Regions from separate parts of the Homo sapiens genome. Here regions 2 and 3 are each linked to region 1. Evidence: fine-mapped expression QTL. A gene starts in region 1. Each other region holds a variant in brackets. All regions are shown on one strand. Distances are between the middles of the regions.

Region 1 (8,189 bases):
AGAGAATATTACCATGAACCATTCTAATTGCAGGAGGCTTTAATAGAAAATTGCAATTTTTATAGCCTCCCTCCATATGGCATGTAAGTCCTTCTCTTCACACAATTCCTTTAGCCATAAGATGCTGACTGTGAGTCCCCAAGACAACAATCTTAGCAAACTTAGCTGCTATAGAGAGGAATGCTGCTAGACTTCAGGACCTCTGAGATCTCTTCCACCTGGGTTTCCCTTAGACTGAGGTCACTTATGTAATAGCTTGAGGTTTATTAAATATTGAAAGTAATATTCTCTAACGACAGCACAACTGCAAGCAACACTGAAAATCCTGAAGAGTTTAAAAGGTTTATGTGGAGATGTATCTCTAGCACAACAGAGAACTTGTGGCCATTTAATTATGTGAAAAGAAGCCTCTAGAAAGACAAATTTCAATTACTATAAAAGCTTTTCCTTTCATGGTTATCAAGTCTAATCGTGATAGAGGATGTTTGGATCTAGAAAGGGTGTTAGATGTGCTTTAGTTCCCATCCTTTCCGCAAATGAGGAAATGGAAGCTCGGCGAGGTAAATGCCCAGGATCACACATTTGCCTGGCAGCAGAGCTGGAATCGGGCCTTTTGTTCAGCATTCAATGAGTCTTGCTTTGTGCTACTTTTCTTTTCTATATCCCTTCCTAATCCTGCCTCAAGACTCAGCTCAAACATCACTTCCCCTAGGAAGAGAGAACCAACCTGTCTTTCCTTTTGCCTTTGCTGGATTCTTTACATTCTTCTATCAGAACATCTGTAGTATTTTATTGCATCTATTTGCTTACATCTTTGATTTCCCGATAGACTGAAAACTCCTTAGAGTAGGGACGAATCCTATTCTTCAAATGCCCAGTGCCAGGTTTAGAAGTTGGTGACTTATGTTAAGATGGAACACCTGAAATGTTTATTTAGGATTTAAATCTCACCATTTTCAAAAGAATTGGAGGCAGTTAATAATAAGTACATGAACAGAAATAAGATTGAGGATAAAAATCCTCATGTGATGTCTATCTGGACTCTAGTAAAGTCAATGCGATAAATATGGTGCCTGTGTGTATTTGACAACACACTGTTTACTTTCTGTTGTTGCAAAAATTTCCTTTAAAACTCATCTACAGAATGAAGAGCAATATAGAGTTGGGAGAAACCAAATTCATAAAAAAAAAAAAAAAGTATACACCTAAAGAAGATGTGGGGAAAAAAAGTATCAGACACTTACTGAGCAATTTAAACTTAGTCTAAAATATTAAAAAAACAATTTCCCAGTAATACCTAAAACTACTGGTACTTGTGAAAAATGTGCTACCAGAACCCTAGCTAAGAAAGTGAGCTCAAAAAGTCATGGACTAAAAATTTTTTTTAGGGTTAAAACTAAAAAAGTGTGTTTCACTTATCTTGAAATTTTAATTAACAAGAACAAACAATTCCCTGAGTTTTCAGATAAGATACTACCATAGCACTTTATTGACATTACTGAATTCCAAATATACTTCATAGAGCATTCCTAAGGAAATGACTTGATATGACAATTAAAAAAAATTAAAAAGCAGCAGCAAATAGAGTAAAAGGGCCTTAGAGGTCAGTCAAATCTTATCCTTTTGCAGTTAAAACCAAGGCCCCAAAATATTCACTCATGCATAGTCACAGATTTTAAAACAATTCTTTTAGATGTGTTTCATATTTTATCATCCATTTATACTAATATTTGACCAAACAGTAATATGTGACCAGGAAAAAAAGTTTTATGTGTCACATCACAGGACCACTGTTCTGCACACAGCTTCTATTTTAGGTGTGGTAACTGAAGCATGGTTCATTTTTGGATCTCTGACTTAATAGCCTTGAGCCTTAGCTTCCCCTTCAGGAATGTATCTGCTGTTGCTTCAATTTCATACTGAGGCTTAATCAATGTTTACAAAATAGAGACCTAGCTAGAAAATCATGGCCACAAAAACTGACTTTAAGAGTACAGCTAATAAAATCTCCATATTACTGGTCTTGCTATCTACTCAAAAGGTGACTCCAAAAAAAACTAAGACAACAACCTAGTGAGCCATGACGTGCTTTGAAAGAAAATGTCTTCTTTAGAGTGAAGTCACAATGTAAATATATGCTATTCCAATATTTTTTTAATGAGCTGCAACACGCAAATGGAAAAATAAAGAACTAGCAGAGAAAACTGAGTTGGGTGCTGTTCCAGGGCTCCAAGAGCCTGCAAATGACTTGCAAATGACTCATGAGGCTGCTAGTAAAGGGATACAAGATCACATGGCCTTAAAACCAGGCCCCACGGCTGTTTGACACCCAGTAGTTGCTATCTTTGGCATCTCCAAATGAGGGCATCTAGGAACAACCAGCAAGGCTGGAGAAGCCAGTGTTACTAGCAATTCTTCATCACACTAACTTGACCCTCCTTTCAACTCCAGTGTGCAAATTTGCTTATTCACCAAGATTGGCTAAAGCAGCATCCCTTTAACAGAACCCTTTCTTATACCTTGACTGGAAACATGTAAGTAATTTCATTTTCCTCTGGTTTAGATCACTGCTAACAGTTGATTTTTTGTCATTTAAGAATTCTTTGACTATTTACAAATAAATATTCCAACAAATAAAGATAATTGTCTATGAAAAATTGCCTGGTGCTTTATTTTTTAACCAGGCAGGTGCTTGGTATCAAACCACAGAAATAACTCACACCAGTATTGCTTGCCACAAAATCAGAATTGTTATAATAGGGCATAATTCAAAGCTAATAAGCAGTGTTATTGAATGAGTCATGGTAATTTGTTCTTTAATTTCATTTCCCAGTCAATGCCTCTTCACATTCAGGAAGTAATTTTTAAAATCAAGTCTAAATCATTTCTATCAAAAATGAAAAACACAGAGCACATGCAACAAAAACTTCCCAGACTCGAGAATCATAATTCAGTCTCAGTAGAGTAATAGCATGCAAATTACTTACAAAAATGTGAGCTTTGACTGCTAGGTTACCAGAAAAACAAAACAAAACAAAACAAACAAACAAAAACTAATTGTTCAGAAGCAACTACAACAAAACTTTTCTACAAATTCTGTAGTTCTCTCTTTGCCTTTCTTCAGCATACGGGTGCTCCTATGAGACCCATAAGCCCCAGGATGAAACTGTTGGTCTATATTGTGTCAATTTAGCCAAGCAGTGTAAGATTCCAAATCCTGACTTTTTTCATAATGTCTAAGGTTTTTAGTAAATATATTACTAAAACTATGCTTTAAAAAGAAAACAACAAAAAAACACCATGCCCTGATTTAGTTGGTAACTGATGAGGTTTTTATTGGACTGAAGTTACCGTCCTTATCTGGCTGAAGCAACTGTTAGCTGACACCACCTTTCCAGCACTCCTGCCATGGTATGCTTCCATATATAAATATCCTGTAGCAGGCGGAAGCTGCCACTATGATGACTGACTTGCAAACACTCCAGACAAACCAGAGAACTGCAATAAACACGGACAGAATATGATTATGACATCATAACAAGGATGATGGCAGGTCAGACGCCTAGTGCTTCCAGTAGCTACAAAAAGCGATTGTGAGTGGGCGATTTCATGGATACAGACCCACCACAGGTGAAGGAAGCACTCCATCTCATCGGCCGCCTTTCCTTTACAAAGGCTTTGTTCTGTGAGTGTCTGCACATCCTCCTTTCTCAGGAATAACAGCCTTCCATATATGTGGTTCCCTCACATACATGCCAAGGAGCTTCTGCCCTCTGCTGTACATAAAAGATGCTACAGTGATGAGGAGACCAACTATCTCAGCAGGATACTAACAGTGAGGTTGTGAACAACTGTGCAATCCTTTATCATCCTCACTTCCATTGCCATAGCTTGATGGACATTATTCATCTTTGAAACATTTTTCATGTCAGTGAGAAAATAGGTGTTCCACAAAATTTTCTTTGAGACAGAGTCTTGCTGTGTTGCCCAGGCTGGAGCGCAGTGGCATGATCCCAGCCTACTGAGACCTTCCTGCTTCCAGATTCTCCTGCCTCAGCCTCCCAAGTAGCTGGGATTACAGGTATGTGCCACCATAGCTGGCTAATTTCTTTATTTTTAGTAGAGATGGGGTTTCACCATGTTGGTCAGGCTAGTCTTGAACTCCTGACCTCAAGTGATCCACCCACCTCGGCCTCCCAAAGTGCTGGGATTACAAACTTGAGCCACCATGCCCGGCCCAAAATTTTCTTTACACCTATATCCCATACGGACCTCACTCTGCTTTGGGGGAAGAGGAATGTCATTTTTTTTTTCCCTTCACACTACCTAGTCTAAGAGGGAATGTCATTTTTTCAAGCCTCATCTGTACCCAAAGACTAATTCTTGGAGGAAGACAATATAACTAGTAACTTTTCTCAGAAACATACGTTAAAAAGCTATGTCAAATTTCTCTGAATAATGAAAATGTTCATGTTAGCTATTATGCTGTTTTTAAGAAATCTCCCAACTACCTGATCTGCCTTGAGCCATGTATCCTTTGAAGATATAATAGAAGTAACTGCCTCATTTTGGGGCGTTTACTACTTTTCCTCTCCTGTAACTTCTAACTTTGTGGAATATTAACTTCCCCTGAAGGAGGAAGGAAATGGAGACTAAGGAATTTAATTGTTGAGGGATACACTGATTATAAGTGGCAGAGATGAGATGTAAACCCATACCTCGCATTCAAGTCTGAATTGAACTATACACCAGTGAGGGGGATAAGACTGCCTTTAGACCAGTTAGACTTCTGGAAAGCCACTTAAGAACAAAGCAAGACAACCTACTTCATTTTAACTATAACATACCTGCAAGACCACCTTTAAGAAGAGTTTTGGGGCCGAGTGCGGTGGCTCATGCCTGTATTCCCAGCACTTTGGGAGGCCGAGACAGGCAGATTAACTGAGGTCGGAAGTTCGAGACCAGCCTGACCAACAAGGAGAAACCCCATCTCTACTAAAAATACAAAATTAGCCGGGTGTGGTGGCACATGCATGTAATCCCAGCAACTCAGGAGGCTGAGGCAGATTATACCATTGGACTCCAGCCTGGGCAACAAAAACGAAACTTCATCTCAAAAGAAAAAAAAAGAGTTTTGGGTCACAAAAAGAGATATTCTCACATGAAGTGTCTAATCTAGGGACATTCTCAAGTATTTGCTTTTTCTTTCATATATTACATCTCAGGGTATCTAAATTCACTCCCAGGAAATTTAGTACCCATCAAAGAGGAGTCACAGACAATGAATACTTCAAAATGCTTGAGCCTCAAAATAATGAAAGCGGGCAAAATTAATCAAGAATCAAGCAATGAACAACTAGTCTATAACACAACATTTTTCTACTTTCAAGAAAACACAAGCATTCTTACACATTGAACACCCAGCCACCCTTGTCTAGCAGTTACCACAAGTTTCATGAATAAAGTCACCTGCATATAAATTCAACATGCAGATTAACACTCTATACCTTCTTCCTCCCAAAAGCCCAGTAAAAAAGCAGGAGTACAAATTACAAAACCAGAAAAATTAAAATAGGAAGAAACAATACTGAAGAGCTCAATAAATGTATTGAACATGGTAAGAAGAGTGGTATCTGCCTTAGCAGGGCTATCACAGATGAGTGACAGTAGGACTGATCCTGCAGAATTCAGGCAGGCCTAGGATTTAGAGGCAAGAGTGTGGCATGGAGCTACACAGAGGCAAGTAATTTAATGCTAGCCAAAAACAAAATGCAATACAAATTGGAAAATTGTCTTAGAGAAATATCCCAGACAGAAAAAAAAAAAATAAATAAGGCCCAAGATTCAATTTGGGAGCTCCACTATGTCATAGAGTTCCAGAACAAAGAAAATGAGGAGGAAGAGAAGAGATGAAGAACTTAATATTTTCCAGGTTGCCAATCCCACCAAAGCACAGTATCATGCAATTTTAGAACACTAGAAACAGAGATGCTGAGAAAACAAAGAAATAAAAATAAAAACTGCATCAGATATCTCAAGATTTTGCAAATTAGAATAGAGCAATGCCTTCAAAATTCTGAATTTGAATACACTTGTCAAAATTTTCAAAAATTCCAAATTTGATTTTCCACCTAGAATTTCCATGCAAACTATCTTTCAGAAATATGAAGTCACTAAATAACTGACTGATCTCTCACGCACTCATTCCCAAGAAACTACTGAAAGAAGTGCTCCATGTTAACAAAGAAGTAAATTAAGACATGGGATCCAGAAAATGAGGGATACAATTCAAGAGAAAGAAAAACAAATCCTCACGATAGTGCTGTCTCAGGAAAACTGCTATACAATTGGATGAGAGAAACTAGTCTAGATTGAAACAAGTACAGAATCAAGAAAAGTTGTGACAAATTTATTTGGGACTGTTTGGGAAGAATCAATGATGTGCATAAAAAGCCAAAAAAAAGAGCATTAACTCCAAGACAAAACGTTGTATGAGAATGAAAATGTAAGCACATTAAATTAATTCACGAGTGAACATACAAGTATGATCACAGCTATGCAAACAGGTACATGATCTAACCAAAATAATATTAGAAGGATGTGAAACAATAAAAGAAATTTTCACCTGTCTTAATAGTAAGTTGACAAACACCTAAAAAATAAATGGCTGTATAATCATATTATTTAGAAACCTAAAACCAAAAACTGAAGGCTGAAAGAACCGAGCTAGAAAAAACTGAAGGCTGAATGTCTCTTGGGATGGGACTGAGGAATAGGAAAGGATGGAGCAAGGGGCTTTCCTTATTAGCCTTGAAGTACCATTAAACTATGTTCAGGCTGGGCACGGTGGCTCATGCCTGTAATCCCAACACTTTGGGAGACCAAGGCGGGCAGATCACTTGAGGTCAGGAGTTCAAGACCAGCCTGGCCAACATGGTGAAACCCCATCACAACTAAAAATATAAATTAGCCAGGTGTGGTGGAACACACCTGTAATCCCAGCAACTCAGGAGGCTGAGGCAGGAGAATCGTTTGGACCCTGAAGGCAGAGGTTACAGTGAGCCAAGATTGCGCTACTGCACCCCAGCCTGCGCAACAGAGGGAGACTGTCTCAAAAACAAACAAAAACCTATGTTCATACAACACTTTAATAAAAATTCATTATTTATTTATAATTACATGTACATACATATATGCATTTGAATATCTAGAAGAAACTACCATTTGCAATCTCTTTTCCATGGTTCTAACCTACTTGGAACATAACCAAGTGACAACATACAAACAAGTTCTAGATTCTAAACCTGTTTTCCACTGCACTGTAACTGGGGGATGGGACTCAGCAACAGTGACTCCATAAGCCAGCAAATGATTTTCACCTAGAGGGAGCACCAGACTTCCAAGAGTTGTTGGGATGTGGGAGGGGAACACTAGTTTGGAAAAAAGACCTTAAATGATTTTGATACTTCTCCCTACAGTATATATGCTTCCCTACCCCTCACGGCGACCTACAGCAAGAGTATCAAAGAAACAAGTCTACGGATTTGAAATGGCATGTTGCTTGCACTATATATTTTAATCTAAAGTTTATTAAATGTTAACGTGTTGTCAAAATGCTTTTCATAAAATGAAAGAAATATACCTCATGGGCAAACAAGCAGCAATATTCTTTTTTGTTTTGCTTTTGAGACAAGGTCTCACTCGTCACCCAGGCTGGAGTGGCACAATCACGGCTCACTGCAGCTTTGACCTCCTGGGCTCAAGTTACCCTCTTGCCTCAGCACCCAAGTAGATAAAGAGTAGAAGCACACACCACCACACTCATTTTTTAAATTTCTGGTAGAGACAGGGTCTCGCTATGTTGCCCAGGCTGGTCTCAAACTGGGCTCATGCCATCCTCCCGCCTCAGCCTCCCCAGAGTGCTGATTATAGGCATGAGCCACACTGCATGTTGCCAAGCAGAAATATTCTTGAAAGTCAGAAACCTTAATCCCAATTATGTATTGCTACATTCTTTTCATCTACTTTAATGTTTGTAAATATACACATAAAGCTTTGTCTCCCTGCCCACCTGGCCTAGTCATTTTGGACTCTGTACCTCAAAGCCATAAATAATATTTCTTCTATTAGAAGAGAAGCACTTTCAGTGTGGAAAAAAATCTTTATTTCAAAGTAAAATGCACAAAGTC
Region 2 (8,189 bases), 100 kb after region 1:
ATCTGTGGTGTTATTACCTCAATTTCTAAAATTGGGGTAATAACACCATCTATCTCATAGCAGTGTTGTAAAGCTCAAACACATATTAACAATTAAATTACTTATAACAGGGTCTAGCATGCAAGAATAATTAACTATAGGGCAAATTGTATTTAATTAGAAGGATATATCATAATTAATAATGCCCTATAAATGGCCGGTTAGTATATTTTGATAGATAGCTGTTAGCCATACTGGAGGCACCAATTCAAATTTTAACTTGTTCTTTTATGCTTCCCTTTAGACACATGATACCAAAGTATTTAGCCTTTTATAAGGTAGGATATTTCATAAATCTGAGAAAGCTAAGTGCAGGAAACATCCTGCCCTGGAATAAATTTAGTTGGATCTATATCTCACACAACACATAAGGATAAACTCTAAGGTCATCAAAGACTTCAAGATAAACTGGGAAAAAAATGAAGCATAAAAGTTCTAGAAGTAAGCTTGAGAGAATTGCTATATAACTTTAGAGAGGGGAATACTTTCTAACTAAAAGGAAAACAGAAGCCATAAAAGATTCAACTATATAAAGGGGGAAAAGAACTACAACTACATTTATGTGCATGATACAGACACTACAAAGTAAAAAAAATCAAGAAAGTTTGTATTTCATTTAAAGATGAAAGGGTAATCTTGGTATATAAGATGTGCTTAGAAATTGTGTGTGTGTGTGTTGTTTTTTTTTTTAAAAAAAGACCAAGAATCCAGGGGGGAAAAATGAGCACAGGACATGAGCAGATAGTTCACATAGAAATAAACATTCAAGGCTCATAAATATATACAAATGTTCAAACTCACACATAAGAGAAATGCAATTGAAGCTATACTAAGATATTATTTTCCCTATCAGATTAGTAAAATCCAGAAGTTTGACAACATTCTGTTGGTAAGACTGTGGGGAACAGGCACTCATATATCACTAAAGAAAGTATAAATTTGGTTCAAACTTTTTGGAGGACAACTTGGCAACATCTATTGCAGTAAGCTAAATGGTGGCCCCAAAGACCTGTTCATGTTCTAATCCCTGGGACCTGGGAATATTCATTTATATGACAAAAGATTAAGTTAAGGATCTTGAAAGGAGGCATTTACCCTGAATTATTTGAGTGGGCCCTAAATGCAATCACATGTGTAATATGATCACATGTATAATAAGACCACATGTGCAATAAGAGAGAGGCAGAGGGAGTTTTTAAGTGACATACAGAGAAGATATAAAGAGAGGAAGGCCATGTGAAGCTGCAGGCAGAGACTGGAGTGATATAGCTGCAAGCCAAGGAGCTCTTACAGCCACCAGAAGCTGGAAGAGGCAAGGAATGGATTCTCCTCTAGAGTCTGAAAGGGATGTGACCCTGCAGACACCTTTTTTGCAGACTTGATTTCAGAATTCTGGCACCCAGCATTGTGAGACAGTAAATTTCGTTGTTTTAAGCCACCAAGGCTGCAGCAATGTGTTACAGCAGCCACAGGAAACTAATACATAATTAAACTTACAAAGATTAGTAAAATTAGAAATTCAAACAAATTACAAATAAAATGCAATGACAAATATAAATGTTGGAGACATGACCATCCCTCTTCCCACTCAGAGGCAGTTGGAAAGGTGAAAGAGCACACATTGGCTGACCACTGTGACAGAGGGTGCTGCTGCTGACATTTTGGGAGCAAGGAGCAGTAATACTAAACAGGCATGTCAGTGTTGTGTGTAATAGTAACAGATTGGAAATGACCCAAATGTCCTTGGAATAGTCAAATAATAAGTTGTTATATATCCATACAATGGACTACTATGCAACTGTTTTAAAAGATTGAGAAACTTCTCGATGAACTAATATGGAAATATTCCAAAATATGTTAAGTGGAAAGGGCAAGGTATAAGACAATATACACAGAATGCTAACATTTATATAAAAGGGAGGGAGGAGAATACAAAGCTATATTCATATATAATTTTATAAATGTGATTATCCAAGAAATGGTTTGCAGGCAGAGGTGAGAATGTGATGGATGAAATTAGAGTGGCAATTAGGCTTTTCACAATTTGACTTTTGCTATATATTTTTAAAGTTTTTAATCATGTGAATATAGTGCTATTAAAATATATATATATATCTGCCGGGCACAGTGGCTCACGCCTGTAATCCTAGCACTTTGGGAGGCCGAAGCGGGCGGGTCACGAGGTCAGGAGATCAAGACCATCCTGGCTAACACGGTGAAACCCCGTCTATACTAAAAGTACAAAAAGTTAGCTGGGTGTGGTAGCACGCGCCTGTAGTCCCAGCTACTCGGGAGGCTGAGGCAGGAGAATCGCTTGAACCGGGGAGGCGGAAGTTGCAGTGAGCCGAGATTGCACCACTGCACTCCAGCCTAGGTGACAGACAAAGCAAGACTCTGTCTAAAAACAAACAAACAAACAAACAAAAAACTAAGGCATGAAAAATCTAAGGCTTTCCTCAAACACTTGTGGAGCCTGTGGCCAGAGTACAGATGGAAAGCTACATACTGTAAGTCTAAACATTTAAAAGCTATAAATCAAGCTGGGTGCGGTGGCTCATGCCTGTAATCCCAGCACTCTGTGAGGCCTCTGCAGGCAGATCATTTGAGGCCAGGAGTTCAAGAACAGCCTGGCCAACATGGTGAAACCCCATCTCTACAGAAAATAAATAAATAAAATAATGAAAGTTATAAGTCAAGCCAACAAACAGTTAATTAAAATATGTTCTCTTCTCCTACTTTGAAAAACCTGCTTAATGACAAAATAGAAAAAAGATAAGTATAAAATGTAAAATTTGGCAAAATATCAAACATGATAAAATTAAATTATTATTGTGCATGTCTGGGTGGTCCATTGATAGTCTGGAGATGTTGAGAAGAGCAGTAAATAAAGGCATTTAATTCACAGTGTATTTTATATTTTTTCCATATGTTATTTTTTCCTGTCTTCATTTCAATAAAATCACTAATTATGTAGTTGTAAGCAAGATTTTTGCATAATTCGACTCCTGTAGACAGTAATACCAAATTAGATAATATTTCTTGAGTAATTAAAGTTTTTAGATGTTTTTCTTAATTAGTTTCAATTTGAGGAAACTTCTCTGCTGAGGCAAAAACAACTGGACTTGTCCATAACTTTTCAAAGTAACATTTAGATTAGAAACAAACCATAAAATTTACATATCATGTTCAAACATTATAATGGCATCTTCACTTTAGTTACATTATATAGATCACTAGCACTCAATTGCTCTTCTCTCCATCTCTCAAATAAATATTTAGATCTATACAGTATTTCTTAAATTTCAAAAATTTCGAGCCAGGCACAGTGGTTCACACCTGTAATCCCAGCACTTTGGGAGGCCAAGGCGGATGGATCACTTGAGCTCAGGGGTTCGAGGCCAGCCTGGGCAACATGACAAAACCCTGTCTCTAAAAAATAAAATTAAAATGTCAGTGCTGAGAAATTGTAAAGCAAACTAGAAGTAGCATATGTCCTTCAGTGTTCTATTCAAAGGACTCAAACTCTCGAACTTGCCCAGATCTTCCTGAAGTATGAATACCATTGGCTTCTTTTAAATTGGGAGACTATGTAAATGAAAATAAAATAAATTATGAAAAAGCATCTGTAATACCTAAAAACCTATTATTACAAAGATCGATAATGTGGTTTTAGAAAAAAAGGAACTCTGAAGTAAATCGACACAGGTGAGGATGTGGTCAACATAATGCAGTCAGCAACAAACTAACTCTTCTTTCAAAATATCTCAAATCATAATAGAACTGCAGATGCAATAGCAAACAATTTCACAGAACTGCTAAGAGCAC[A/G]TAGGAAAACCCAAACCAGCCATCTCAGACAGATGGAGATGAATGCATACAGCTATACAGTAAAACTTTCTCTAAAGAGAGTTGCTAGGGGAAGAAAAATTTCAAGTCTCTGAAGAGAAGGTAATTAATCCAATTATTTCAATGAACTTGAGTTTCTCCTTGCTACAATGTTTCTGGAGTATTTATGTGGTTGTAACCTTGACAGTGTGGTCATCTATTTATAATATAGCAGCAAGGGTCTGATACAAAATTCTAATATCATAAAAGTACATCATTAAAATGCTTTATATGGAGTAAGAATTTGAAATTCTGATTACTCACTAAAGGGATATATCTTAAAGTTAATAAGGGAAAGTGGTTACAGTGGAGAGAGAAAACAGAAAGAAAACTGAAGGAGGTCAACTGTAGAAAGAGGACTGGATGAAGTGGGCACTGAATGGATTGACTTATCAAGGGAGACCTATGTTCTTCATAACCCCTATGCTCACCTCTCCAACATGTAAATCACATTGTGTGGCCATGGCCTTTTTATTTGACTGTCTCACTGCTGTACTATAAGCTTAAGGATAAGATGATGACTGTTGTGTTCTCCATTGTGTCTCCAGCAATTACACAAGGTCTAACATACAGTAGGTACTTACTGGTAGATGTTAACTGGATGGATGGATGGGTGGGTGGAAGGATAGAGAGGGATGGAGGAATGGAGGGGTGGGTGGATGGGTGGATGGGTAGACAAGTGGATGAATAGACGAATGGACAGATGGATGGATAGATGGGTGTCAAGAAGCTGCAGATTCCTTGGCTACAATAATTAGGAGTTTCCTCATATCCATGGGAAGCTCAACTGCCAATGCCACAGCCATAGCCACAAACATCTCTCAGACACCACTAATCAATTAGTACTGTTAGTTGGTTAATACTGACATAGTAGTTAAAGTGTGTGCTGTGAAAAAATTCAGGCAGTAGTTTAATTAGAATTTCAGCTTTGGCTGTTGACGGTGAAGCGGGAATGCTTTCTCCCTGAGTTGCCCCGGGGAGGGGATTCTCCATTTCTGGTTTATAAGACCAGAGTATGGAATTGTACTACAAGGACATTTTCATTTAAGAAGTTTATTTTCAATTACGGTAGTGAGTGGTATAAGGGTGAGAATGGTAGAGAAGTACATGATAGATGCTGTCTGTCCGATGGCAATGAAAGGATATTTGACTGGCTGCCCTCTGATTCATGTGAGTGTAAGCAGGTCAGCCACTAGGATTCAGAATAGGCATTGACTTAATAACTTATTATGCTTTGTTGTTTAGACATGTGAAGTACTGGAATAACTGCTAGAATGAGAATGGAATATACGAGGGCCAGTACGCCTCCTAATTTGTTAGGGATAGATCGTAAGATTGCATATGCAAACAAAAAGTACCGCTCTGGCTTAATGTGGGGTGGGGTATTGAGGGGGTTGGCTAAAGTGTAATTATCTGGGTCGCTCAGGAGGTCGGGAAGGAGGAGGAGAAAAATTAAACCTAGAACATCTTTGGTTGTATATTGTCGGGGGGAAGTGATTTTGTCGGGGTCTGATGAAACTCCTGAAGGGTTGTTAGATTCTGTTTCATGCAAGAATAAAAGGTGAACAGTTGCTAGAGCTGTAATGACGAAAGGTAAGATGAAATGGAAGGCAAAAAATCGTGTGAGGGTGGCTTTGTCAAATGAGAATCCCCCTCAGATTCATTGTACAAAGTCAGTTCCAATATATGGGATGGCTGATAGTAAATTTGTAATTACTGTAGTGCCTCAGAATGATATTTGGGCTCATGGGAGCACATAGCCTATGAATGTTGTTGCTATAGTTGTGAATAGGAGAATAATGCCAATATTTCAGGTTTCTGGGAATAGTAATGACCCGTAGTATAACCCTTGGCCAATGTGTAAGAAGAGGCAGATGAAAAATATTGAAGCACCATTAGCATGAAAATAGCAGACCATTTATCCGTAGTTTACCTCTCAGCTGATATGAGTGACTGAAGAGAAGGCAGTTGAGGTGTCTGATGAACAGTGCATGGCCAAAAATAATCCTGTGATGATTTGGAGAATTAGGCAGGCACCAAGAAGTGAGCCAAAGTTTCATCAGGTAGAAATGCTGGAGGCTGTGGGAAGATCAATGACTGAATAGTTAATTTTTATTAGCGGGTGTCTTTTGCGGGTATTCGTCATCAGTATTCTTACAGTTGAAGTACAATGATGGTTTTTCATATCATTAGGTCATGGTTATAGTCCATGTGGAATAATGGTATATGCTTTATTTTTATTAAATGTTCTCTTGGTTATAGAGTTCGTAGGCTTTTCTTTGAAACCTTCTCCTATTTATGGAGGCCTAGGGCTAATTATTAGTGGTGCTGTGGGTTGTGGTATTGTGTTGAATTTTGGTGGGGCTTTCGTGGGGTTAATAGTCTTTTTGATTTATTTGGGTGGTATGATGGTTGTTTTGGGTTATACTGCGGCAATGGCTATTAAGGAATACCCTGAAACACGAGGGTCAAGTATAGACATTTGAGGAGGTTTATTATTAGGATGATTAATAGAGTTGATGTTGGTTCAGTGAATAGTTGAGTACAATGGGCTGGTGATCACAATTGATTTTAAAGTGTAGAGAGTTGGATAATTTTTGAGGGTGAGGGGGTGGGGTTGTGTGAGGATTCTGTGGGTGTGGCTGCCTTCTACAGTTATGGGTGTTGATTAGTGGTAGTTGCTAGTTGATCATTATTTGTTAGTATTTATGTTGCAATTGAAAATACTTGGGGTAATAGATTAGATAATTAATAGTAGTGTTAGAAGGGATGGGATAAAAAAAGAGAGAAAGTAGAGTTTTATTAGGCCTTTTTGAGTAGATACAGTAATGGAGGCTGAAACTTAGATTTGTGAGATGGTCATTGGTATAGACTTTTCTAGTCAAATTACGTCTAGTAGAAGTGAAGCCACATTTTGGTTTGTGAATAGGCTTGAGTGGGGGGTTGAATGGTTGATTGTGGCTGAATAAAAACCTAGTATATTGGAGAAGCTGAATGTCTGTAATGGGTACTTTAGTTTGAGGTTATTAGTTATGAGATTAAGCTCCATTGCTAGTAAGAGGCCTAAGGTGGTTACACCTAGGGCTTTGAGCTTTAAGTGGAGTGGTATAATTGTTTGGGGGGATGAAGCAGGAATAGTACTGTTGGTGATGAGGAACCCAGAGAAGATACTGCTGTATTGTTAGGTGCTTAATTGAGTTAATTAGGAAGGGTTATTTTCGTTAATAATAATCAGAGTTGTGAAGCGAGATTGTCCTATGAGAACGAAGAAAATAATACAGGTACTATAGACAGCTGTTAAGGAGGTGGCAATAAGAGCAATAGAAAGGGCTCAGGTGTTGGTGTATGATGTATTTGCGGTTTCTATAATAAGGTCTTTAGAGTTAAAGCCTGTGAGGAAAGGCATACCTGTAAGTGCAAGGCTACCAATAGTAAGGGAGGAGGAAGTGAAGGGTAAAGTCTTGAACAGTCCTCCTATTTTTTGGATGTCTTGTTCGTCATTGAGGTTATGGCTGATGGAGCCTGAACATATAAATAATATAGCTTTAAAAATGGCATGCGTGCAGATGTTAAGGAATGCTAGATGTGGTTGATTAATGCCAATTGTGACTATTATAAGGCCCAGCTGGCTTGAGGTGAAGAACGCTATGATTTTTTAAATATCATTTTGTGTCAGAGCGCAGATCGCTGTAAATAAGGGGGTAATGGCCCCCAGACATAATGTAAAGGCTTGGATTGGTAGACTATTTTCTATTAAAGGGTAGAAGCGGATGAGCAGGAAAACTCCTGCTACAACTATAGTGCTGGAGTGGAGTAGGGCTGAGCAAGCACAACAGCTTGCTCAAATTCCCAGTGTTCACCTAAAAGGAATTCCAAATATTGGAAGAGAAATTTTAGAAGTCCAAACCTAAAAAAAATAGAAAATATACCACTTTCTCATAACTGGCAACATTTTTCAGGGATAGTTCTGGTCAGGATCAATGTAATTTTTTTAATGAAATATTTTATTAACAGTGTTATTGAGAAATAACTCACATATGATTCCCCCACTTAAAGTACACAATTCAATGGGTTTATAGTATATTCACAGAATTGTGCAACTATCACCACAATGAATTTTGGAACATTTTCATCACCCCAAAAAGCAATCTTATTAGCAGTTTACTTCCCATTTGTCCAGATCCTGGAAACCACTAATCTGCTTTCTGTTTCTATAGATTCCCTATTCTGGACACTTCATATAAATAGAATCATATGACGTTTGGTCT
Region 3 (8,189 bases), 34 kb after region 1:
CTGCACACCTCCCCACTGGACGCCTCCGTCGGGCGGGGCGCGGATCCTACCTACAAATCCCATGCGGCCAGTCTTCCGTCCGCGCCCAGGGAGCCTGTCTTCGTGGCCTCACTGAATTCTGGGAAACGTAGTAAGGCTGGGGCCGGGGCCTCCTCCCAGCCGTCTCTTCCCAACGGGCTTTTCTGCCCACTTGCTTTTCTCCTGGTGACCCCACCCCTGCCTCGGCGCGCCCCCGCCTTGGAACTGGGTGAGGTAGGCACCGGCGATGCACAGTGGGGCGAGTATGCCCTATGACGAGAGTCGGCTTCCAGCTGGCAGCTATGCAATCACCTTTGCTTCTCTTTCTCCGGAGGCTGGTGTTCTCCTTAACCTTTCCCCTACTTCCCTGCGGCACCTGCCAGGCACGCAGCCTTACCTCTCCTGGGTAACATTTCCATGGTTTTAGTTTTAACTAGTTCCATGAACTACTTAAGCCATCATCAGTACTGTACCTGTAATTGGACCGTGGTTCAGGGTTATGTGCCCCCCATCCCCCCCCCCCCCCAAAAAAAGGGATGCTTTCGTCTACTTAGTTGTGGAGTTCGTGTATATCTCAGATTCTAGACTAGGAATATATGACGATTCAGCGTTGTGGGTTTCTATACAAGAATGTGTCCCTTGACAATACTACCTGCCAGTTCTGAGAATTTCACAGCTGGTAAAACAAACACAAGTTATACAGATCAATAATCGCAGTGCTGCCTTTTTTCTCAAGGCACTCCTAGATCTCTGTCTTCCTTGTTAGGACATTTGTCTAGTATTTAGAGCCTGTTATTAGGTTCATATACTATGCTTATGACAGATCAAAGTCCCTGACTCACCTCAATGTAGGTGAGTCATCCGCCACTCCACCTCTCAGCTGAGCTCTATTCTATTTTCAATTGCCTGTAGCAAATTTCCACCAGAATGTTCCACTTGTGCCTCAACCCAACATCTCTGAAACGAATACTATATTTCCTTCTTCCTGTCTTCCCTTTGTTCACTGTACTATTTATTATCCTCCCATATGTTAAATTCCAAAACTCAAATTCATAGTCTTTTTTCCCTTTGATGCACCACCCCCTCCCCACCCGCAAAGCAATTAGTTTTAAAATAGCACTCTTAAATTCCTGTCCTATTCTGTGATCACATGTGACCTCAGTTCATGCCTGGGCATTTTAAGCGATCTCCCAGTCTTTTCATCCATGTTTCATGCACAGTAATGCTGCCAGATTTATTTGTGTGTTCCCTATTTTACTAATCCACCTGCTTTAATAGTTGCTCAAAAACATTCCATGGCTCCCATGACTAACTTTAAATGCCAACCCTTTTAGCCTGGCCCTGACTCCCTTTCCAGCCTCATCTTTCACTGCTTCCTCATACAGTTCTTGTTCTTCAGCCAAACAGGACTGCTTTTCATTTCCAATACACGGCTCTCTTCTCCTACCTCCATTTCCTCATTCATATTCTTTCCTGTTCTTGTAATGCCTTTCCTCCCATCTTCACCTTAAGAAATTTTATCCACCGTTCAAGATGTAGCTCATGCTGCCACCTTCCTGAAGCCTCCAGCCAGAAGTTTCTTCCTCCTCACAACTCTTTGACACTCATCCTAATAATGCCCTAATGGCACTTATTACCTCCCCACACGGCCTACTCAAAGATGCTATTTAATGGGCAACATTTCAGGGTTGCTTTTACTTTGTTTAATCCTGAAGCAGCCAGTAAACTGCACAGAGCACAGAAACCAAATACGGAGGCAGGTTGTGGGGGAGGAAGCAGCTCACACTGACTCCTTGTATCTAGAGGCACACTGCAACTCAGTGACAGGGCCTATACAGAATGAGATGTCTCACAGAATTGTAGACTCAATAACTTTTATAACCCTAGGCTCTTCACCATCCAGAAACAATTTATACTATACATAAGGCAACAGTTTTGCCACTCTGGAGTCACATCACCTAGGCCTAACATCCAGGTTCCAGCCCTGGAAACGTGTGCTTTGCATTTGGGGCAGGGGCTTTTTTTCCAAATCCCTTCACATCCACTTAGTCGTTCTGCGGCAGGCCTGGCCATGGCCCACCACATCATATACGTACTTGTTTTACATTTATTTGTGAATACATCTGTCATCTCATGAAATTATCAGCTTCCCAAGAACAAAAATCTTTTCCTCTTTTTAATTTCTTTTCTTTTTTTCTTACTTTTCTTTCTTTTTTTTTTTTTTTTAAATCTACAGGCCCAGGAACTTGAAAAAATCTTGCTGTATCCCTCATGGCACAAAAGGAAGTGTTACATTTGAAATTGAAATTATAGTCAGTATATATATAGTTAAATGAACATTTAAGAAATAATTGTTGACTAGATTTTTCTGGATCAAGGAAAGGGAGAAACTTATGTATCACTACATACATACATTCTGGATCAAGGAAAGGGAGAAACTACTTATCACTACAAACATGAAGTACAGCCTTCAGTATAATGAATTCTGAGAGATACTGTACTTTTGATAAAATTACCTTACTATAGTTTTATGCCTGCAGTTTAGCTCCAGACCAGTGCAAACATCACAAAGATGTAGCCCACCTCCTCATGGGACAGTGGTCTTCAGCTCCACATACTATTTTGCAATATGTTTAAAGAAATTAGAAGACTCCAAACATCAAGTCACTAAATGATTACAAATACCAGAAAGGAAGGGGAAGCACGAAAGGGAACAGGAAAAAGGGCTTTCTCCAGACTTTGCCTTTTTCTTCAGGAAAGACCACACTCCCTAGAAACTTCCACCTACATGTTGACCAGAACTGTGTCACAGGATGATCCCTAGCTGCAAGGAAGTTTAGAACACAAGTATTTTCGGTTGGGCTCATTCGCAAACAAAATTGAGGTTCTGTTGTTAAGAATGAAGGGGAAACCATGGATATAAGGTAGACAAATAGCAATGTCTGCCTCATATATCAGGAGGCAAAATACTCTCATGCTCTAATAAATAAATATCACATATTTGTTACCAACATGACATTATGTGCTGCCTCAACATTTAAGTCATTGTAAAATATATTCTTCTTTTACAAAACAACTTAGTTTAACATTCCATGGAACAGAAATCACCATCAGGGTAAGTATACTCAAATGTTGCAAAAATAAATCTTACATTAATCAGAATTTAGGGGCACGCCTGAGAAGAGTTCTAAGTTCTCATTGATGACTTTGATTCAAGAACAAGTAATAAAGATAAGATTCAGTATTCATACCTTCCTTGAAGGCATAAACATGAAAGGTTTTCTTTGAATGACTTTAGTCATGGCCTCCTTGGGATTCTCTGCATAGCACTGAGCAGAAATAATACCTCCCAGATCCTCCATGTAGGGCTTGTCGGAATCTGTTTCTTGCCTGTATCTCCCAAATCACTTCTCTCATCACCTAACACAGTCCCTTTCCTAATGCCATATCAAACTCTTAGCAGGTCTCTGAGCTCACCACTCTCAAGCTTCCAGGCCTTACCTAGGTTTGGCACATACCTCTCTCTCCATATTGCATCTCCTGCCCCTCTTTTCATCCACTGCATTTCAGCCACACTGGTCTTTGCCAACTTAAAAACACAAAGTTCATTCCCCACTTAAGACTTGCAACAGCTCCTCCCTCTGCCTGATATGATCAACCCGAGCTTCCCACACTTGCCATTCAGATCTGAGCTTAAATGACACCTACCTGAAGAGGCCTTCCTACTCTCCCACTCTTCCACTCTCCATTCTAAGGTCGCATCCTCACCCCACCTACCACCAGCACCTCCACCCTGCTTATATTCTCCCAAAGTACATCGCACTACTTAATATTTTTTGGCCCAATTATTTTTTGTCTCTTCTACTAGAATGTTAGAATTACAAGAAAGAGATCCTGTCTGTTTTATTCACTATTGTATCTTCAGTACTGGAACAGTACGTGGCACTTAGATATTCAATTATTTTTTACTGAATGTTTACACCACTCCTGAGAAGAATAAGCGTAAGCGAAAGAAGGTGAAGCTGGCTGTCCTGAAATACTGTAAGGTGGATGAGAATGGCAAAATAAGTCGCCTTCATCTAGAGTGCTCTTCAGATGAATGTGGTACTGGAGCGTTTATGGCCAGCCACTTTGACAGACATTATTGTGACAAATGTCTCATTGCTTCAGCAAACCAGAAGACAATTAATTGTGTATGAGTTAATAAAAGACATGAACTAACAAAACACATTTACTGAATGAATAAATGTATTAATAATTAAATGTCACTCCTCTGCCTAGAACATCCTTCCCCACGATCTCCCCATCATCCTTTAAGTTACTGATCCTCGGTCACTAATCCTGGGCCCCCCAAATTGTCTGATTTAAATGTCTTTCTTTTTTGTTCTTGCAGTGCCTTCTTTAGACTAGCATTAATTATATGTATTGTAGGGTTTTTTTACTTCTTTTTTTTTAATATGTATTGTAGTTCTTGATTACTTGTCTGTTTTCCCCTCAGACATGAGATACAAGCTACATGCTAC[T/A]TGTGGGCAAAGCCCAGTTTTGTCACTTCTGAAACACACATGTAGCACCTTTGTGCAAATTAGAAACAGAACACCAAGTCTGATGAGTGTTTATGGGCTGGAATCCAGTCACCAATCTCTCTTCAGCAGGGAACAACCTATACATCTGTACATAGTGGCCCAGTAGACAATAACTGTGTTTTTAATTGAATGAGGGAGTCAATTTCCTCTGTATTTTAGCAGTTTTCTTAAAAGCAAAGGAACTAATGTGGGGAAAAGGATGAGGCTAACATTTATTGCAAGTCCACACTGCCACTGTTCTAGACTGTTTTCACACCTCTCATGTAATTCTTACAACAACCCTACGCAGAAAAGATTAGTTTTACCATTTTGTGGATGAAGAAATGAGCTTAGAGAGGTTTTGCAACTTCCCCAAGGTCGTACCATTGGTAAACAGTGCGTCTGTTGTGATGAAAGCCTAGGCCGGCCGGGCGGGGTAACTCACACCTGTAATCCTAGCACTCTGGGAGGCCAAGGTGGGCGGATCACAAGGTCAGGAGATCGAGACCATCCTGGCTAACACGGTGAAACCCCGTCTCTACTAAAAATATAAAAAATTAGCCGGGCGTGGTGGCGGGCGCCTGTAGTCCCAGCTACTCGGGAGGCTGAGGCAGGAGAATGGCATGAACTCGGGAAGCGGAGCTTGCAGTGAGCCGAGATTGCGCCACTGCACTCCAGCCTGGGTGACAGAGCGAGACCCTGTTTCAAAAAAAAAAAAAAAAAAAAAAGAAAGCCTAGGCCTATCTGATTCCAAGTTTGCCTCTGGCTGGCTTTGGTCATATGGGAACCTGAGTGCTTGTTCCTAGGAGTCATGGGTTTTCTTGTTTGCTTTTTTATAATTTCAACTTTTAGATTCAGGGTATAATGTACAGGTTTGTTACATGGTTATATTGCATGATGCTGAGGTTTGGGATATGAATGATCCCGTCACCTAGGTAGTGAGCATAGCACCCAGTAGTTTTTCAACTCTTTCCCCCTCCATCCCTCCCGCCTCTAGTAGTCCCCAGTGTCACTGTTGCTTTTTTATGTCCAGAGTCATGGGTTTTATTTGCAATGCTGCGAGAAAAGGCCCCTTGAAGTTAAATTTTGCCTTGTTCCCCTTTTTTTTAGAGTCTCTTCACCCCTAGTATCAGTATACAGGGGACATTCAGTTGTTGACTGCCTGATGAATGTTTGCCAGTGTAAGTTTTTTCTGATATTTCTAAAGCTTTAGCAGAACTTTATTATTAAATAGTAATGTTATTCCATCAAATAATTTTTTACATGGATTATCACTTGTTGTGTTTTAGATTGCATTGTTTTCTTAATATGTTTGCAATTTTTGTTTTATTGCCAAGAATGGTGATAATACAGCATGCTAAATTTGAGATCCCTGTTTGTTAAGAAATGATTCGGCGGGCAAATTTAGTTAGAACTCTTTAAGCCTTAAGATATATTTTGTTTGCTTTTTTCTTTTTGTTGTGTAGAAGATACTTCTTTGTGGTTTTCAGTTTTGAAATTACATACACTTTCTGTAATGAAATTTCTGACAAAAGACAGTCAGTGTTTAATTGTCTTCTAAAATGGGAATGTTGCTTATCTCACAAAGCTGCAGTATTATCAATAATAAAATATGAGACTGTGTTAACAGGGTACTGTGAGCCATAAGTACCATAATACACACAGCCAAACTAGGATAGTTATGACGCATTATGTTGGAAGAACTTTTTATGGCAACAGCGTAAGTAGGAATTATCTTTTTGTTGAACATAAAGAATATCAGTGGACTTTTCCATTTGGATATCCTGACTCTTCATACCAAACATAACCAAAATCAACTTGTTCTTTACCAACCTCTCTACATTCTACAACTAGTTTTGTTTTTTTGTTTTTGTTTTTGTTTTTTTGGTGGGGGATGGTGTTTGTTTTTTGGGTTTTTTTTTTTTTTTGAAACAGAGTTTCACTCTTGTCACCCAGGCTAGAGTGCCATGGTGCGATCTCGGTTCACTGCAACCTCCACCTCCCGGGTTCAAGCAATTCTCCTGCCAAAGCCTCCCGAGGGATTACAGGCGTTCACCACCATGCCTGGCTAATTTATGTATTTTTAGTAAAGACGGGGTTCATCATGTTGGCCAGGCTGGTCTCGAACTCCTGACAAGTGGTCCACACACCTCGACCTCCCAAAGTGCTGGGATTACAGGCATGAGCCACCACACTCGGCCGTTTTTGGGGGGCTTTTTTTGAGATGGGTCTCCCTCTGTCATCCAGGCTGGAGTACAGTGGTGCCATCACAGCTCACTGCAGCCTTGACCTCCTGGGCTCAAGCAATCCTCCCGTCTCAGCCTCCTGAGTAGCTGGGATACAGACGCATGTATCCCAGCTAATTTACTTATTTATGTTTGTAGAAATGAGGTCTTGCTGTGTTGCCTAGGCTGGTCTCAAACTCCTGGGCTCAAGCAGTCCTCCCAAAGTGCTGGGATTACAGGCATGAACCACCACACCCAGTCTACAACCAGTTCTTGTTCCCAGCTTTCTCCGTGTGGTAGTACTAATCTTACGGCCAACCACCAGAGAATCTTAAATAGTTGAAAATTTCTTAAGGGGTAACCTACTTCAGACTCCTGCCTCACCTGGGAAACGACTGACAACATGATTAAGATCCAAGGCTCTAACTCAGTATTCCAGGGTTCAAATCCTGGCCATACTATTTGCAATGGATTCTTGAGCAAGTAACTTCACTCTTCCATGCCTTGGTTTCAATGTGATTAATGATAGAACCTATTTCATGTGGTTGGAATGAGGAATACATGAAACAATACAAGTAAAGTACTTAGCTCAGTACTCAGCACATAGTAAACAATGTTAGCCATTAATATTAGTCAACAGATATTTATCATTTTTTCTTAAACTCTGACAGTGCTAGAACTCACACAACTCTTCAGGGAAGCTCATTCCAACAGTGGATATTTGTCATATTTTGAAAAGTCTCAATTCCTTCAACAAATATTCCTCAGGTGTCCACTATATACCAAGCATGTTCTAGAGCATGAGAACAAAGAGATGACTGAAAACAGTGTTTGTCCTCATAAAGTCCCTAGTCCAGCAACAGAACTCAGTACCAGGTGGCCCGTGGCTGTCCGTCCCTCTCAGCCCATTTGGAGGTGACTCTTGCTTCTCTCTTGATGGATCAGCTTTCACTGCCCACCCCCAGGGACATGACCAAAGAGGTTCCTCCTCTCTACCCCTAAGCGGTGAGTCCATAGGCTCCCTGGAGAGTTCAGTCATCTCTTCTGGAGCAAGTCACCTAGCAGCAGTGAACCTCCATTTCTTTATCTCAAAAATGGGAGTCAATAATCCCTGCCTTATTGATGTCACTGGATTGTCATAAAAATGACATCATTATGTAAAGGTCTTTGTAACCTGCCACGTACTCTATAATGATGAGATACTCCTTATATTAAACCAAAGAAAGAAATGACTCTGCTAAAGATGGAATTTTAGACATCAGTAAGCAAGGGAAGATCTTTTGGCTGGGAGCTGATAAAGTGGTTAACAGGAGAAATTTACTAAGCCCCAGATCAGACTTATAAGGACAAGACTAGACTGACTCAACCAGGCCTCCAGCATTGC

Evidence for each region.
Region 2: its variant is fine-mapped to the expression of LSMEM1 in whole blood (INTERVAL, PIP 0.94).
Region 3: its variant is fine-mapped to the expression of LSMEM1 in whole blood (INTERVAL, PIP above 0.99).

The regions. Positions count from the first base shown.
Region 1 is chr7:112,476,145-112,484,333 of GRCh38, reverse strand. It overlaps LSMEM1 (leucine rich single-pass membrane protein 1), which reads right to left and starts at 3,343. Exons shown (of 4, transcript NM_182597.3): 1 at 2,988-3,343. IFRD1 (interferon related developmental regulator 1) reads right to left here. Exons shown (of 12, transcript NM_001550.4): 12 at 7,131-8,189.
Region 2 is chr7:112,372,202-112,380,390 of GRCh38, reverse strand. The region is part of intron 2 of LOC105375456 (a long non-coding RNA gene); the gene reads left to right. It also overlaps the pseudogene MTND5P8, the pseudogene MTND6P24 and the pseudogene MTCYBP24. Among named protein-coding and RNA genes, the nearest start is that of ZNF277-AS1, 26 kb to the right of the region's middle. The variant A/G (reference allele first, on the strand shown) is at 3,865.
Region 3 is chr7:112,442,182-112,450,370 of GRCh38, reverse strand. It overlaps LOC105375457 (a long non-coding RNA gene), which reads left to right and starts at 7,021. Exons shown (of 3, transcript XR_001745325.2): 1 at 7,021-8,066. It also overlaps a transcript of IFRD1 not described here. RefSeq lists enhancers at 1-3, 4-821. The variant T/A (reference allele first, on the strand shown) is at 4,542.